2 separate regions of the Homo sapiens genome follow, and region 2 is linked to region 1. A link means that fine-mapping ties the variant in region 1 to the expression of a gene that starts in the linked region. Tissue or cell type: aorta. Region 1 holds a variant in brackets; the other region holds the start of a gene. All regions are shown on one strand. Distances are between the middles of the regions.

Region 1 (8,087 bases):
GAGCCAGCGGCGTCTCCCGAGTAGGTCCTGAGGAGGAGGAGGCTGGGCCCTCTCAGGTGTCCCTGTAGGGATGACGGCGCCTCCTGCGTAGGTCCTGAGGAGACGGCTCGGTTCCGCCCCCTGGAGCCGCAGGCCGTCTGTGCCGGAACCCGGGCGCCTCTTGAGGTTCTGTGAGGCGGCATCGCGCCCCCTGACGGCCGTCGCAGGCGGTGCAGGATGCTCAGGTGCTCGCGGTCGAGCTGTGGCCTCGCCCCTCCGGTGGATCTCCGAAGTTCACTGTTCGGACAGTTACACGCCATGACTTTTGAAAAACCAGCTGAAGCCGGGCGCGGTGGCTCACGCCTGTAATCCCAGCACTTTGGGAGGCCGAGGCGGGCGGATCGCGAGGTCAGGAGATCGAGACCATCCTGGCTAACACGGTGAAACCCCGTCTCTACAAAAAAAAAAAAAAAAAAAAATTAGCCGGGAGTGGTGGCGGGCGCCTATAGTTCCAGCTACTCGGGACGCTGAGGCAGGAGAATCGCTTGAACCCGGGAGGGGGAGGTTTCAGGGAGCCTCCTCTAAACAGAAAAGACTGACCCCCAGTCAGTGTTTTATTTTCCCTGATGACCGCAGGCCATGAACTTATGGAACAATAAGGTAATTAGGCTCTTGGATCCAGGGAAGTAGCTCCATGCCACCTGCCCTCATTTGCTGAGCATTTTGGTTTCTCGGATCTGCTACTCAGTTTCCAGTCTCTTCCTCCCTGCCAATGCTGCCAGCGTGCCTCTTCTGCAAGCAGCAACCGCCTTCCACCTTCCATTCTCTCCTCTTTAGCCATCATCTGGCTGGACTTTTCAGAATGGACTGCAAAGGAGAATAAACTGGCTGAGTCTGAGGGTGCACTCACGTGCAAAGTTGCAAGCTTTAATGTACCCATCTTGGCAGATTTTGGCTCCTTAGAGTTCTTTCGCATTTGGGGATCTCATGTGCCCTCTGATGAGGTGGGCTCACTGACTGTCTGTGCTGGTGGCATCTGGCAGCACCTTGTCACGTGCACCTAGGTAAGAACCTGGCTGCACCTGATGCTTAGCCAAATGGGGAGCCCACAGTTCTGTGTATCAGGTGATGTTTAATCTCTGGAGGTTAATGAACGTGAGGGAGCGATACTGTCTGGGACTGTCCACATATTGCGTCTGAGTCACTGAAGGAAAAGAATGTGGGGTCTGTTTGCTGGGATTGGACACCTCCATAATCACATGCTCCATGAAATGCAGGCAGGAGATCTCGCTTTCTACCTCTGGGATGGGAGTGTGCAGTTTCAGAATGAGACTAGCCCACACAACTGACTCTTTATTTGGGAAAGAGAAATGAAATCAGATGCAGCAATTTAATATCCACTAAGATGATATCTTAATCACAAACACTCTTCTGGTTTTTAGAAATGTGAATGTTATTTACACTAGGTTAAAAAAACCTGAATATCCAACAGCATGACACTGACTAAAGAAATACTGGCGCACTCTGGAACCTTGCACACCACTTATTGGCATGGGAACAATGGGAACACGCCTATACAAAGATGTGCATGGAAATTAGAAGAATGCAACACTGTAGAACAGATGTGACTAGGTGCATGATCAAGAGCACACAAGACCAAGCCTGCCTCTGCACACACAAGACCGCGCCTGAGTCTGCACCACGTGACGGGACCACTGTGGAGCAAGCCTGGGAGATTCTGATGTAGGCAGCAGAGGCGTCACTTAGGGACCAGACTTCCGTGGGAAACCACCATCTCCTTCCAACCCAGATGCACTTCGTGGGAAACGCGAGCAGATGAAGGTCATGTAGGAGACGAAAGAACTCGCTCCCCAAGCCTGTAGGCCTTTGTCCTCCACCCATGGACCGAAGCATCTTGTTAGATGAGGGCCGCCCGCAGCCAGGGCTGGCGGAGAACCTGCCAACGAGCAGGTGTCCGTAAAGAACTGCTGACTGTCACTGTCCCTACTTGGGGGCCACTGGGGGATCTGATGCATCTCACTACCCTTTGTAAAGGAATTATTGAAAATGTCAGCCCTCTAACAAGGCATAGGTTGATTAGTTACAGGATTTAACATTTCTATTTTAAAAGGCAGCATTGAAGAATGTCTTTACAAAGGCTGTACAAAACCTGCCATATTCTTTGTCACACAGATTGACTCATGTGCAATGCAGCCATTTGATGAAACACTGGCATTTACCAGATGTAAACTTATTAGCAGACGACAACTAGAAATAGTGTGCTGGATGTGCCCGTTTATTTATATGAATATAACCATCTCTCTAGATGCATCGAAAGATACACAACATGAGATCCACTTTATTTCTACAAGTTTATGATCAGGTGGTCAGGACAGGGAAAGAAGAGGAAAAAACTTTAAATCATGGACCTTTATTCTTAGACACCTTTATCCTACATACACAAGGTACATGCATGGTTGAAATAACGGAAACAAGGTGGATAAAAGTGAAAGTAACTTAAACTGCTTTACCCAGGAATGCCCAATTCAGATGCTGCAGAGAAGAGCATGAGAACCGGGTGTCTTCAGGACAGGTGTGCATCTGGGAGCAGAGTGGGCATTCATCAGCAGGGAGGAGCAAGGCCTGGGTCGGGGGACACTGGGGCTGCTGTCCCAGAGGTTGGCAGTGTAGCCCTGAATCCCCAAGACTTCACTCAGTCTCCCCTCAACCACCTAAACCAGAATAAACTGATGTAGCAGGACTCCTCAAACACTGTGCAGGGTCTCCATGTCCTCGATGGCCCCTGATGAGCCACAGTACCCTCAGGTCCTAGTGAAGGAGCTGGTGCTGCCTCCTGCCTTTCCCCACATGGGGTCCTGCAGCTCATCCCACACAGCCTCAGATTCCCTCTACAGAACCTGCCCACAGATGTCTTCTGAGACCAGCAATACTGGGAGGCCTGTGGCCCAGACCCAGGAGGAACCAGCTGAGAGGCTCCGTGGAGGTATCGCTGATGGTGTAACCAGAATGAAAATGCCCACTTCTGTTCTGCTCCCTGAGAACAACTGTCAAGCCAGCATGAGTTTCCAGTTGGAACTTTTCCTTTTCTCCCCATGTTTGTCACTGTTTTAATGGACATCGCCTGGCTATTAAATCCCCCGATGAACTCACTTTGAAAATTATCTATTGCACTGGGCACCCTTTCAGGAATCACTGAGTGTTAATTTTCTCAGTCTGAGTGATAATTTATGAGTCAAACAAGGACAGATCTGAAGCCAGAGGCTGCTCCTGTTGGGAAATCCCTGAGGATGATGTTCCAGGGAAGCCTCCAGCCTTGGGAGTCCCGTGGAACTGAGCCAGCCCAGGTCATGAAGGGAGCTGGTGCCAGACACTGACTGGGGACCTGCTGGCCTCTGGGCAGACCGCTCTGTCGCTGCACTTGGCCTGCTGGGTATCCCTGTGCAGTCATACCAAGTCCTGTGCTCAGAAGGGCCCCAGAGTAGTTTAAAGTTCTGCTGCCGCCCCTGGAAGCTCATGATTTTGAACAACAACAACAACAAAAAACCCACGTTTTCCACTCGGCCCCACACATTATGTGGCCTGCGCAGCTGTCAGGCTGTGGCCACAGTGCTGGCATCTCTCACACAATGAAGGCTGCTGGAGTCCTGGCTGACTTGTTTTGACTCTTTTGTGAGGCCCACACCTAAGCTAAACACTCACGTGCCCCCACGCTGACTCCCCACACTCTAAAGCATGAATCTGCCCCTTCAGCTGGGAGAGGGTCCTCGTGTCATCTGGGTTTTTGGAGAGAAGGTCAAGGGAGCCTGGGTTCTAGTTCTTCAGTAATCAAGAGCAATGGTCTTACCTGTTCACAGGTCCCTGTGGCTGCTTTACAGAAAGCAGGAAGTGGCCACTTCAGCCACACGGCTGCATTTCCAGCTCAGTCCAGGCAGAGCTGCACCCTGCCTTGCACCTCTGCAGATCCTGAGGGGAGTCCTTAACTGAGCCAGGGCGAGTCCTGGGGGCACTCTGCCCCTGGGCAGGCCCTGAATCTCCTCTGCTCCCACACTCTAGAGTTCAACAGGTCTCAGGGGCTCTGCCTGAGGACTGTCCTTCAACCAGGTATTCGTAATTTCCCCAAGACCCAGGCTTGCTGAGTCACTCAGTTACCTGAATGCCTTTTTCACAAAGGAATGACTGTGCTGCTCCGTCTTCCTTCTTTTTTGTTTGCGAGGCCACAGGGAAATCTGGATCCTCTGGTGAAAAAGCAAATCCAGTTGCTGCTGCTGCTGCTGCTGCTGCTGCTGCTGCTGCTGCTGCTGCTGCCGCCGCCAGTTCTTGTAAATGTCCTCACTTGGTTTCTGGGCAGCAACTTCCTTGACTTGCCTGGGGAGCGGATCTGAGCTGCATTTACCAGGCCATGCCCAGGGGAAGTGATCAGTGTGGGACCGTGAAGCTGGATTTCCCCAGGAGCTCCCTCCAAGCTTCTGGGATGATGATAAGACTCGGGATGAACCAAGGATCTGGAACCATGGGACA[A/G]TGTGAAGTCTAGACCCAGTGGAGGAAGAGAAAGGCTATGGGAAGGGCAGGCTTCACGTTACTGAGCATCCGCTACCTGCCACACACTTTCACGTGGACTTATTCTGTGTGTTTCTCACAGCACCCTTGAGAAATAGAGACTACGATCACATCTTTTACATAAAAGAAAACCACCATCCAGGGAGGCGAAGTCCCTTGCTCACAGACTGTCATGTGGGAAGCTCTCTGGATGCAATGATGTCCTCCAGTTGCAGTACCAGGCAAGCTGTCCCAGAGTTCATGGAGCGGAAAGGCTCGAGAAGCAACTGAGGATGCTCAAATCACAGGTTTATAAAATCCATTCGTAAAACACAGCAAGAAGCTGAGGGAAGGAGATGGGAGGGCCGTATGACCTGATTCCTGTGCTGTCAACATTCATCGGTTCTCTTCTTTCTCTGCTAGTCAACCTCACCCACTCAGGTGTGACCACGAGGACCAGAGCCGAGGTCTGGGCAAGAGTGCTCACAGCTTAAGGGCTTATGACACACACCGGCTCAACGGGACAGACATGGGACAAGTGTGCCTGATCATGGTGGCGTTGCCAAGAAGCAGCTGTCGCACTGCCATGGGTTCTACGTGTTTCTTGGGCAGAGGACGCATGGGACCAGAATGGGCACCAGGAATGGTGGTGAACAAAGGCCCCATGGTTCTGCATGTTTAGGTGTCTCTTGTATAAAGGCACATTGTGAATTGAACATTTAGTGCCCAGGAGCCTCATGCATATTAAGTATCTCTTGGCCCTTGTGTCTCTTCCTTCCCACATGTAACATACCTGTTCTCTGTAACTATCTATTCTGAACGTATCTAAAAACCATGTCTTGCCTGTGTTATACAAACCACATGCATACTCACGTTCTCTGATGTAGCTGAATGTTTCCTAAGGCCAGGGCACATTTCAGGGTCACATAGAGTGGAGAGAGGGACCAAAATAGCCTTGCTCTGTTTGACTCCCAGCCGAGATGTCTGCTGGGCAGCACTGCCTCTGTAGGCTCTAATGGGGGAAGGGAGCTCAGGGGAGCCTCTGGGGCTGGGCAGGCTACCAGAGGGTGTGGACATTTGGGTGGACCCTGACGGAGGACTTGGGTTTCCTTGGGAGGAAGTGTCAGGAAGGGCATCTGGGGCTGAGAGCACTGTGTGGGCAACAGAAGGAAGGAAACTGTGGCTGGCTGGGAAGGGATGGTACGGGGGACAGGGTGAGACTTCTGGCCCTGGGTGCTCAGATGAAGACCTGGGGTTGCCTAGTGGCTGGAAACACACACCAGCTGTGGCAACTTGACCTCTGGGATGTGAGTGTGCAGGCAGCTGCTGAGAACGGCTGTGGATTTGGAGATGTGGCTACAGGGAATGGGCAGTGGATTCATCTGGGAATTCTGCAGGCAGTGGCCCATAGAGGAAACAGCCTGGAAATGAGACTGCAGATACGTGCTAAAGAGGCTGGAGGAACAGTGACCCCAGTACAAGTTTATGGATCTTATCCACAATCTAAAGAAATGGAGGCCAAATGGCTTTTGAAATTCTAAGATACATGCAGAGGAAGAGTAATGCTTCATGGGAGAGCCAGACTCTTACTGGCAGTGACGCTACACGGTAGAGCTCTGTTCCTCCTGCCCATGTCTGTGGTTGGGGCTGAGGTAGTGCACAAACATGACGCTGATGAGGCCCAAGCATTGTTGGAAAAGAAATCAGCAGCTGCCACAAGAATCTTGAATCCGTGGCTGAAGACCTTGACTTTCTCTGGGACCAATGTGGTCAAGAACAAAGTAAAATCATGACAACAAACACTGTTCAGTTTTCCAAATATAAGCTATTTTAAATACTCTACATTTACCCTCAAAGACTGACATAACTTAGAATAACTTTTATAACAGCAAGGATGAGAACTAAAACTTAAATTGTAAATACAATTTTATTTATAAAAACAAAGTTAGCTTCAAATATTTTGTGAACTAGTAGAATTTTAACCTTCTGTCACATTTCCCAGCAAAGTAAATAATTCTTTTTTTCACTTCTAGTCTGTCAGAAGAAAAGTCTTAGCTGAAATGGCCAGAAACTCTGACGCACACTCCGGAGGCTGCTTCCGGGGCACCTCGGCACGGCCGCTTTTCCATCCCGGCCCTCACTTGATGCAGTCCAGCAGGGTTGAAATTGTTTGAAATGCTTGTTCCCAGTGCAGTAAAGAACTAGCACTTGAATGTAAATTTAATTTCCTCAGCAAGGCCATTTTTATTTTTTTTTAATTTCTGCAGAAAGTGTACACTCGCCAGCAGTTTTGCCACAACAGTATACTGAGCAAAGGAGACAGGGTCATTTATAACCTGATGCATCCACCCTACTGCTGTGTCCAGTTTCCAGAGGCTGGAACGGGACCTCACATTCTGTATTTGTCCCGATTGGCTAGCAACTTAGAACTTTTTTAAAGAGGAAAAGGCAGAGGAGAACGAAGGAAGGAGGAAGTAACTTGTGGAATGCTGAAAAAAGTAAAAACACCTTCGAATAAAGAAGAGGAACAGGCAATGACCTAAAGCTTGCTTGGACTAGTATAAGCATGCCAGGGCAAATATTTAGGCTAAATTGTGGGAGCTAAGATCATAAAGTACATTGATTTCTTTATTAGGGCTAGCAGATATTTAACAATGTTAGCACAGGTCTTTGAATAAATTTTGCTTCTAAGAGAAGTTACTATTTATTTCTAATGAGATGGGAAGGAAAGTCTTTGAAGAGGAAACTCTACTTTTTACAGAAGTAGGAACTTAGACTTACAGTTTGCACATTGACAAACTTGTTTTCCTTCCGTACACGAGGGGTTTATGATCCTCTGTTGCAACTGATTTGTCTTATGTAACTTCAAGAGTTACTCGTCAACCTACTTACTATTCTGGACTTTTCGGGAAATGGCAATTTGCCTTCCTATTTAGTGGGAGGGATACTGAGGCTGCACTTTTTCTTACCCCAAGAAGTGCACAGTGTCATTGCAATGTCAACATCAGGGAGATCTCAGCCAGTGTGAAATAATTAGATCGTCCACTCAAAATTCTTAGTTACAACTTTTTAATATTTTCTTCACACTTCTTAAAAGCAGCTTAACAAGAATTGCATTAGTCAGGGTTTTCCAGAGAAACAGAAAAGAGAGGAGGAGATGTCCAGAATTGTCTCGTGTGATTACAGTGGCTAGAATCCAAGGAAGAGTGGCTTGAGTCCAGGGGCAGAATTCCCTCTTCCCCTGGGAGGTATTTCTTCCTTTAAGGCCTTCAACTGATTGGATGAGACCCACCCACATTATGGAGCATAATCTGCTTTACTAAAAGTATACTGGCTTAAATGCTAATTTCATCTGAAAAATACCACAGAATAATGTTGACCAAGTACTGGGAGAGGCCTTTTCCTTCATCTTTTGGTAAATTGCAATCCCTGGGTATATTCACATTTGAAACTCAAATGTGGGCATTGGCTACTGCAGGCCTTTCCCGGCTCAATGGAGTGCAGACAGGGGAGGCACAGGAGTGACTCCACTGTGTGAAGAGAAGACTGAT
Region 2 (8,082 bases), 440 kb after region 1:
ATCATGCCATTGCACTCCAGCCTGGGCAACAAGAAGGAAACTCCATTTCAAAAAAAAAAAAAAGTGTTCAAACACACAAGAAAATAGAATAGTGAATGAGCACCTGCACCTATAGAGCACTCAGCTTCAATCAGTATTTTGTTATCTTGTTCTTTCTTCGTTTTTTTCCTGAGTATCTTTTTTTTTTTTGAGATGGAGTCTCACTCCATTGCCCAGGCTGGAGTGCAGTGGGATGATCGTGGCTCACTGCAACCTCTGCTTCCTGGGTTCCAGCTATTCTCTTGCTTCAGCCTCCAAAGTAGTTGGAATTACAGGTGTGCACCACCACACCCAGCTAATTTTTTTGTATTTTTTGTAGAGACAGGGTTTCACCATGTTGGCCATGCTGGTCTCGAACTCCTGACCTCAAGTGATCCACCCGTCTCGGCCTCCCAAAGTGCTGGGATGACAGCATGAGCCACCATGCCTGGCATTCTGAGTATCTTTAAGGAATTTCAGACATATGATTTTACCCATAAATGTTGCAGTGTATTTATTAGATAGGGATTGTGTTTTAGCGTAACTATAATAGCATTCCCACATCTAAGAAAATTAACACGGACTCATCCTCAAATACCCAATCTGACTGTCTCAGGAGTGACGGAGCCCAGGTCTGAGAAAATTAACACTGACTCATCCTCAGATACCCCATCTGACTGTCTCAGGCGTGACTGAGCCCAGGTCTAGGTCGCTCAGATTTCCTTCTAACATCCCCTCCTTTTTTTTCAAGTTCTTTATTTGTGGTAGAATTTCCAACATTGTGGAATAAGGTGACTGTAAATCTGTGATGTTAGTTCTCTATAATGTTTGTATGTTTGTGAATTTTGTAATGCAAAAATTTAAGCATATACAGAAGTAGTAGGGGTAACAGTATAATACATCTATCTGTATTAGTCCGTTTTCATGCTGCTAATAAAGACATACCAGAGACTGAATAATTTACACAGGAAGAAGGTTTAATGGACTTACAGTTCCACATGGCTGGGGACGCCTCACAATCACGGCGGAAGGTAGGGAGGAGCGAGTCACATCTTACATGGATGGCAGCAGGCAGAGAGAGAGCTTATGCAGGAAACTCCCGTTTTTAAAACCATCGGATCTCGTGACACTCATTCACTATCACGAAAACAGCACAGGAAAGACCTGCCCCCATAATTCAATCACCTCCCACCCAGTTCCTCCCACATGTGGGAATTCAAAATGAGATTTGGGTGAGGACACAGCCAAGCCACATCAATATCCTAACAGCTGCCACAGTGATTAACTTATGGCCAAACTTTCTCCCCATCATGGCCCTTCTGTTCTTCTCACTACTGCTTCATAGTAACTTACCCCAAACCTCAGCAGTTTAAAACGATTTTCTTTTCTCTGGATTTTATGGGTTCAGGACACGTTTGGCAGGACAGGTATCACGTGTGGTTGTCCAGGCAGTTGGAGGCATGTGAAGACTCACTGAGACGTACAGGGAAGCTCTTGGGGCTGGACACTGATGCTGGCTCCCCCTGAGGTGCATGCCCCAAGCTGAGAAGACTCAAGGTTCCAGCCAGAGCCTGGAATCACTAAAGGCTTGTTTGCTCACAGGTCTGGCTCCTGGGCTGGAAGGGCTTAGGGACCAGGACTACTAAACTGCAGTGCTTCCCATGTTCAGATTCAGGTCGAAAACCATTTCCATCACCCTCCAAAGTCCTCTTGTGCTCAGCTGTGGCCGGCTCCCATTTCTGCCCAGCAACCACTCATCTGCTTCTCTCTGTAAATGTGCCTTTTCTGGACATTCCATGGAAAGGGAACTGCAACATGAGTGGTCTTTCCTCTGGCTTGTCTCACTCAGTGTCCCACCTTTGGGACTCCTTCACGGTGTGGCAAGGGAGTCAGCAGCCTGCTCCTCACTGTCGCTCAGCCCGTCACTGCATGGAGAGCGTGCACACTTCATTTTATCTGCTGAAACTCTGTTCTCACTCTTGCTCTGCTGTTTTCCCTTCATGTCCACCTTCCTCCCCCACCCTCTGGTGTGACAGACACTGCTGGGGCCCTTCCAACAGGCGGTCCTCCTTCCCCCACTTCCGTTACTGGCAGAGGTCCTGCCCACTCCCATGCTTCACAGCTCCCTCCAGCCCCTGGTGAATTTGCACCATTGAATGAGTCCTGCAGAGGCTGGGCAGGCGAAGCCTTCCTGGGAAAGGTTTCCTTGCTAATATGAAGCAAGGAGCAATGCCTTTGCAGTAGATGCAGTCCTGCCTGCGTGTGGGGGGCTGTACACTCATCGGGGGCTGTGGACACTGAGAGTGGTCAAGAAGAGACACGCAAAGTCTTTGATGTCACTGTTGTGCTAACAAGCCAACCTGGAAGCTCCACCTCTGACCCTTCATTCGTGAGACATTAAATCCCTGTGTTAAAGCTGCGTTTAGTGAGCTTTTCTGTAACTTTCAGCTAAAAGCACCGTGACAGACAGGTAGCATTTTCCAAACTGCCACCCAAGGGTGATGCTATTCCTGCAGGGTTCCATCCTCCGGTGGGGGGTTGCGCCCTCCTGTGAGGGGTTCCACCCTCCAGTGGGAGGTTCCAAAGTTGGGAATTCAAATCCAAGTCTTTCTTCCAAGTCCAAGGCCCAGAGCCTCCTACTTTCAGCCCTTGATCCTACAAGCGTGTCAGTGTGAAGCAGTCCAGGCCCAGCTCCTCTGCCTAGCAGGCCAGTCATCCCCCTGACATTCTTTCTTGTCTGACCCGAGTGGTTCTCTCCTTATTATTTTTTTTTTTTTCTGAGACAGAGTCTCACTCTGTAGCCCAGGCTGGAGTGCAGTGGTGCGATCTCGCTCACCACTACTTCTGCCTCCCGGGTCCCGGTTCAAGGTTCGAGCAATTCTCCTGCCTCAGCCTCCTGAGTAGCTGGGATTACAGGCACATGCCACCACGCCCAGCTAATTTTTGTATTTTTAGTAGAGACAGGGTTTCACCACGTTGGCCAGGCTGGTCTTGAACTCCTGACCTTAAGTGATCCACACGCCTCGGCCTCCCAAAGTGCTGGGATTACAGGCGTGAGCCACTGCGCCCAGCCGAGTGGTTCATTCTTGTGATGAAACTTAAAACACCTCCTCCTGGCACAGGCCCCCAATCTCCTCGGACGGCAGGCTCTGCGGGTTCTCCCTGCCTGACCCTTCTGCAATTCCTACTGCAAGGCCTTGCTGGCTCCCACTGGGCCACAGCAATGGGTCTCTGACCGGGCCACCTCCCCTGCGAACTGGCTTCCCCTGTTGGTAGGCACAGACCTCATCATGCCGCCCTTGTTTTTTATTTTTAAATATTTATTTTTTGTAGAGACAGGGTCTCACTATGTTGCCCAAGCTGGTCTTGAACTCCTGGGCTCAAAAGATCCTCCTGCCTCGGCCAAATAACTGGGAGGACAGGTGTGAACTACCGCCCCAGGCAGCACCTCCGTTGTTTAAAATATTTAACGCTTCCAGCTCCACGTGGTAAAACTGATGGAAAACTTTGTATTCTAGCTTCTTCCTACTTTTGGGGCCTCATCTTCCCCACACACACCCAAAGGTCTGGCCACACTAGGCTGTTATAAAAGACACCTTTGTCGCACCCAGGTTCTACTCCTCGGTCACCCTCCGCAATGTACTTATCCCCACAGCCCTCGGAGAGCTACAGTCCAGCCTGGGACGGCCTCCCAATGCTCTGTTCCAGTGTGCGGAGGCTCAGGGATTCTCAGTGGCACCAAGATACCCAGCCCTCGAGGAGAACCTCAGGTGAGACACACGCACACTGCCCCAGCCCCTCGACCACCTGGTACGCACTTATCACTCGGGAACTGACCTACATTTTCATTAAACTTATGTTTTCAACTAAGATTTCTGGATATTTACCTCCTACATAAAGTTCCCAAAACAAACCAGTTTCATCTTTACGGCGCGTGCCTGCTACTAGTGTCCATCCGGTAGGGTCTTACAGTAGGCTCCTCACCCCAGCCCCAGATCCTCCAAGCCACTGACCTCGCTTCGCTCCCTCCCGCCGTCTCCTACCTTCCAGCGAAGCTGCCGGCGGCGGGTGCTTGGCTGTCCCGGCCCCCGGGTGGAGGCTGTCCACAGGCTTCTCCGACTCCCTGTCTGCCTGCCTGGCTTCCTGGGAATGCTTCTCCATCAACTTCTCCTTAGATTTTGGAACTGAATAGGTGGATCCCTTCTTTTGCTCCTCACCTGAAATATATGGATCATCCGTTAGACCCGGGACTTACCGAATGCAGGGCAGTGGGTCCCATCGTCTTCAGTCGCCTGCGTGGGTCCAGAATAAGCTGGCTTCAAGTCTCGAGTCTCCGCGTTTCCGTAACCGCCTCAGGCGGGAAACGCGCCGTCCGTGGCGGACTCGGCGGCAGGAACGGTTCGCACCGGGCCGAGCCTGGCGCCTGCGCTCACACCGCCCCGCCCAGCCCAGCCCCGCCCTGGGCCCGCGCCCAGGGGCGGAGACGCGGGGAGCCCAGCGCCTGCGCCTCCTTTACCTTTCCTGGGTTTCTCTTTGCTTTTGGAAAGGCCCATGGGTGAGCCCACCGCCCCCTCCGACGCAAGCCCGGGTCCCCACACCTCCGCGGCCGCGGAGCCGGGAGCGACTCACAAAAGGTCCTCGCGCCAGCGGCGTGCGTCACCATGGCGACCGCGCGCCGCGCAGCCGCGCCCCGCCCCTCTGGCGGGACCGGCCACCATCCTCTCGCGAGAGCATCCCGTGCGACCGGAAGTGGGGCGGCGACCCCGGAAGTCCCCGCCGGGTGCAGCTTGGTCGGTTCGATCGCCGCCGGGACCTGACACCGCCCGGAGTTGGCGTCCCTTCTCCCTCTCCGAGTGCTGCTCCTGTCATTGTGGCCATGGACGGTAAGAGGTCGCGGCCGTCCTCCGGGGACTCGCGCGCGGGGCGGGGCCGCTTCTCCCACTGGCGTGGGCTCCGCCCACCTGGGGCCGCGGGCAGGACTCAGGAGAGCTCGGGCCTCGACCGTCGATCCCCCGGGACCCCATCCCCAGGGCCTCGACCACCGACCTGGGACCCCTTTTCCCGGTCGTCGTCCCCCGATCCCCGACCCGGACCCCATCCCCAGGGCCTCGACCACCGACCTGGGACCCCTTTTCCCGAGCCTCGTCCCCCGATACCCGACCCGGAACCCCTTCCCCAGGGCCTAGACCACCAACCCGGGACCCCTTTTCCCGGGCCTCGACCCTCGATCCCCGACCCGGAACCCCTTCCCCAGGGCCTCTACCACCGACCCGGGACCCCTTCTCCCGGGCCTCGACCCCCGACCACCGACCGGGACCCTTCCCAGGCCCCCGACCCCCAACCCGAGATCCTTTACCCCGGGCCTCGACCCTCGACCCGGGACCCCTCCCCCCAGGCCTCGATCCCCGACCCCCGATTCGGGACCCCTTCCCCGGGGCCTCCATCCCCAAATCTCAACCCGGTATGCCTTCCCCGGGGCCTCGACCTCTGACCCCCAACCATGGACCCGGGACCTAGACTCCCGACCCAGGACCCCTTGCCCAGGGCCTGGACCCCCGACCACCGACCCAGGACCCTTTCCCCCGCCCCTGGCACTCCTCAGCGTCAGGCGCCCTTTCCCGCCAGCTCGGTAGGGGGGACTGTGCGATGCCTGTTCGGCCTTTCGGGACTTGGAATGTCGGGTCAGAGGGCACCAGAAAAAGTGACAGTTGCACCCCCTGCCCCAAACAGCATCACTGCAAATCAGAAGGACTCAGACAGAAAGCGCTCCCTGAGTGCCAGGCCCTGGTCACAGCAGCTCTTTGCGTCCATTCTCCATGTGGGGAAGCAGAGGTTTGAGCAGGAGCCAGCACAAGCGTTTCTGTGCTCAATGGGTCGCCCTAATTCTTACCTTCTACATCTGGGGCTAGCCGGCTGTGTGCTCAGGGATACCAAAGAACAGGAAGAATCTGGCAAAATGAAGTCCTATGTTTGCTGAAACATCGTTGGGCTGGTGTGATGGGCAGGCTTTTAAAAATACTTTTTGAAGGGCTGGGCGCGGTGGCTCACGCCTGTAATCCCAGCACTTTGGGAGGCCGAGGCCGGCGGATCGCAAGGTCAGGAGATCGAGACCATCCTGGCTAACACAGTGAAACCCCATCTCTACTAGAAATACAAAAATATTAGCCAGGCGTGGTGGCGGGTGCCTGTAGTCCCAGCTACTCGGGAGGCTGAGGCAGGAGAATGGCGTGAACCCGGGAGGCGGAGCTTGCAGTGAGCCGAGATCGCGCCACTTCACTCCAGCCTGGGCGACAGAGCGAGACTCCGTCTCAAAAAAAATTCTTTTAGTTAGAAGTGTGAAAAGCTATAGTACCACCGTGTCATCATCATGAAGGAAATGTGTAGAGATTTTCTGCCCTGAGAGAAGATGAAAGATAACATCTACCTCCCGCCACAAAAAATATGCTGGCCAGGCCGGGTGTGGTGGCTCAGGCCTGTAACCCCAGCACTCTGGGAGGCCGGGCGCGGTGGCTCACGGCTGTAATTCCAGCACTTTGGGAGGCCGGATGTGGTGGCTCACGCCTGTAACCCCAACACTTTGGGAGGCCGAGGTTGGTTGATCACCTGAGGTCAGGAGTTTGAGACCAGCCTGGCCAACATGGTGAAACCCCGTCTCTTCTAAAAATACAAAAATTAGCTGGGCCTGGTGGCGTGCACGTGTAATTCTAACTACTTGGGAGGCTGAGACAGGAGAATCGCTTAAACCTGGGAGGCAGAGGTTGCAGTGAGCCAAGATGGTGCCGTTGCACTCTAGCCTGGGTGATAGAGTGAGACTCCGTCTCAAAAAAAAAAAAGAAAAATTGTGGCTTTTCACTCCACAGCTCACTCAACTCTTTTGAGGGGACTTCTCTCAAGCCCATGTCAGATTTCCTCAGAGTCAGATTTTGCCTTAGCTGGGTTTTTGTGCTGCCACACACGGCTGGAAGAGAAAGCTGAGGTGAGGAAAGCTGAGGTGAGGGAAAGCTGAGGTGAGGAAAGCTGAGGTGAGGAGAGCTGAGGTGAGGGAAAGCTGAGGTGAGGGAAAGCTGAGGTGAGGGAAAGCTGAGGTGAGGGAAAGCTGAGATGAGGAGGGCGGTTTGGCCAGCATCCCACAGTGAGTTGGGTGGGACGGCCCGCCTGGCCTGCACTGTGCCATCTGGGTCAGGCTGGCTGTTTTCCAGTCACAGATAACCTTGGCCGTGACCACACCTGAACTGATAGATGACAGGTTGAACTTGGCCTTGACCACGCCTGCACTGACAGGCGATAGATTGAACGATGCCCAGAGCTTTCTGGAACCCCGGGAGATCTCATCTTGGAGCCTTGGTGTGCATTTGTGAACACTCAGTAACCTCATTCTTTTACAGGCTCCATTTCCTCGTTGTGGCTAGTGTGGTAAAGCCCTTTCAGGAATCTGGGGTCAGGGTCGCTCTCCAAATTTAGCAGTTGAATGAATTGAGATCAATCCTACTTTTTAAAAAAAATATTTTTTCTTTTTTTTTTTGAGACGGAGTCTTGCACTGTTGCCCAGGCTGGAGTGCAGTGGCGCAATCTCGGCTCACTGCAAGCTCTGCCTCCCGGGTTCACGCCATTCTCCTGCCTCAGCCTCCTGAGTAGCTGGGACTACAGGCGCCCGCCACCACGCCTGGCTAATTTTTTGTATTTTTTGGTAGAGACGGGCTTTTACCGTGTTAGCCAGGATGGTCTCGATCTCCTGACCTCATGTTCCGCCGGCCTCGGCCTCCCAAAGTGCTGGGATTACAGGCGTGAGCCACCGCACCCGGCAAAAAAATATATATTTTTCTAATAGAGATGAGGTCTGACTATATTCCCTAGGCTGGTCTGGAACTCCTGACCTCAAGTGATCTGCCCGCCTCAGCCTCCCAGAGTGCTGTGATTACAGGCGTGAGCGACTGTACCGCTGGAAATCAGCTCTTTGATGTCTAAGAGTTACCACCTTGCTATTTTTATCCATTTACCTTTGAGGAGAAAGAGTCTGTAAAAAGTAAACTGTCAAGTACTGAACTTTTAAATTGGCCCAGGCTG

What was found. PIP is the estimated chance that this variant, and not a neighbour inherited with it, causes the effect.
Region 2: CHMP1A starts here. The variant in region 1 is fine-mapped to the expression of CHMP1A in aorta (GTEx, PIP above 0.99).

Annotation. Positions count from the first base shown.
Region 1 is chr16:90,098,505-90,106,591 of GRCh38, reverse strand. It overlaps FAM157C (family with sequence similarity 157 member C), which reads right to left and starts at 4,328. Exons shown (of 4, transcript NR_126161.1): 1 at 4,150-4,328; 2 at 1-433. It overlaps LOC105376786 (a long non-coding RNA gene), which reads left to right and starts at 4,429. Exons shown (of 2, transcript XR_933914.3): 1 at 4,429-4,844; 2 at 4,960-5,413. The variant A/G (reference allele first, on the strand shown) is at 4,519.
Region 2 is chr16:89,654,401-89,662,482 of GRCh38, reverse strand. CHMP1A (charged multivesicular body protein 1A) reads left to right here and starts at 4,775. Exons shown (of 7, transcript NM_002768.5): 1 at 4,775-4,901. The coding sequence starts at 4,895. SPATA33 (spermatogenesis associated 33) reads right to left here and starts at 4,647. Exons shown (of 3, transcript NM_001271907.2): 1 at 4,535-4,647; 2 at 4,062-4,235. The coding sequence starts at 4,571. RefSeq lists an enhancer at 4,494-4,663 and silencers at 4,379-4,768, 4,989-5,048.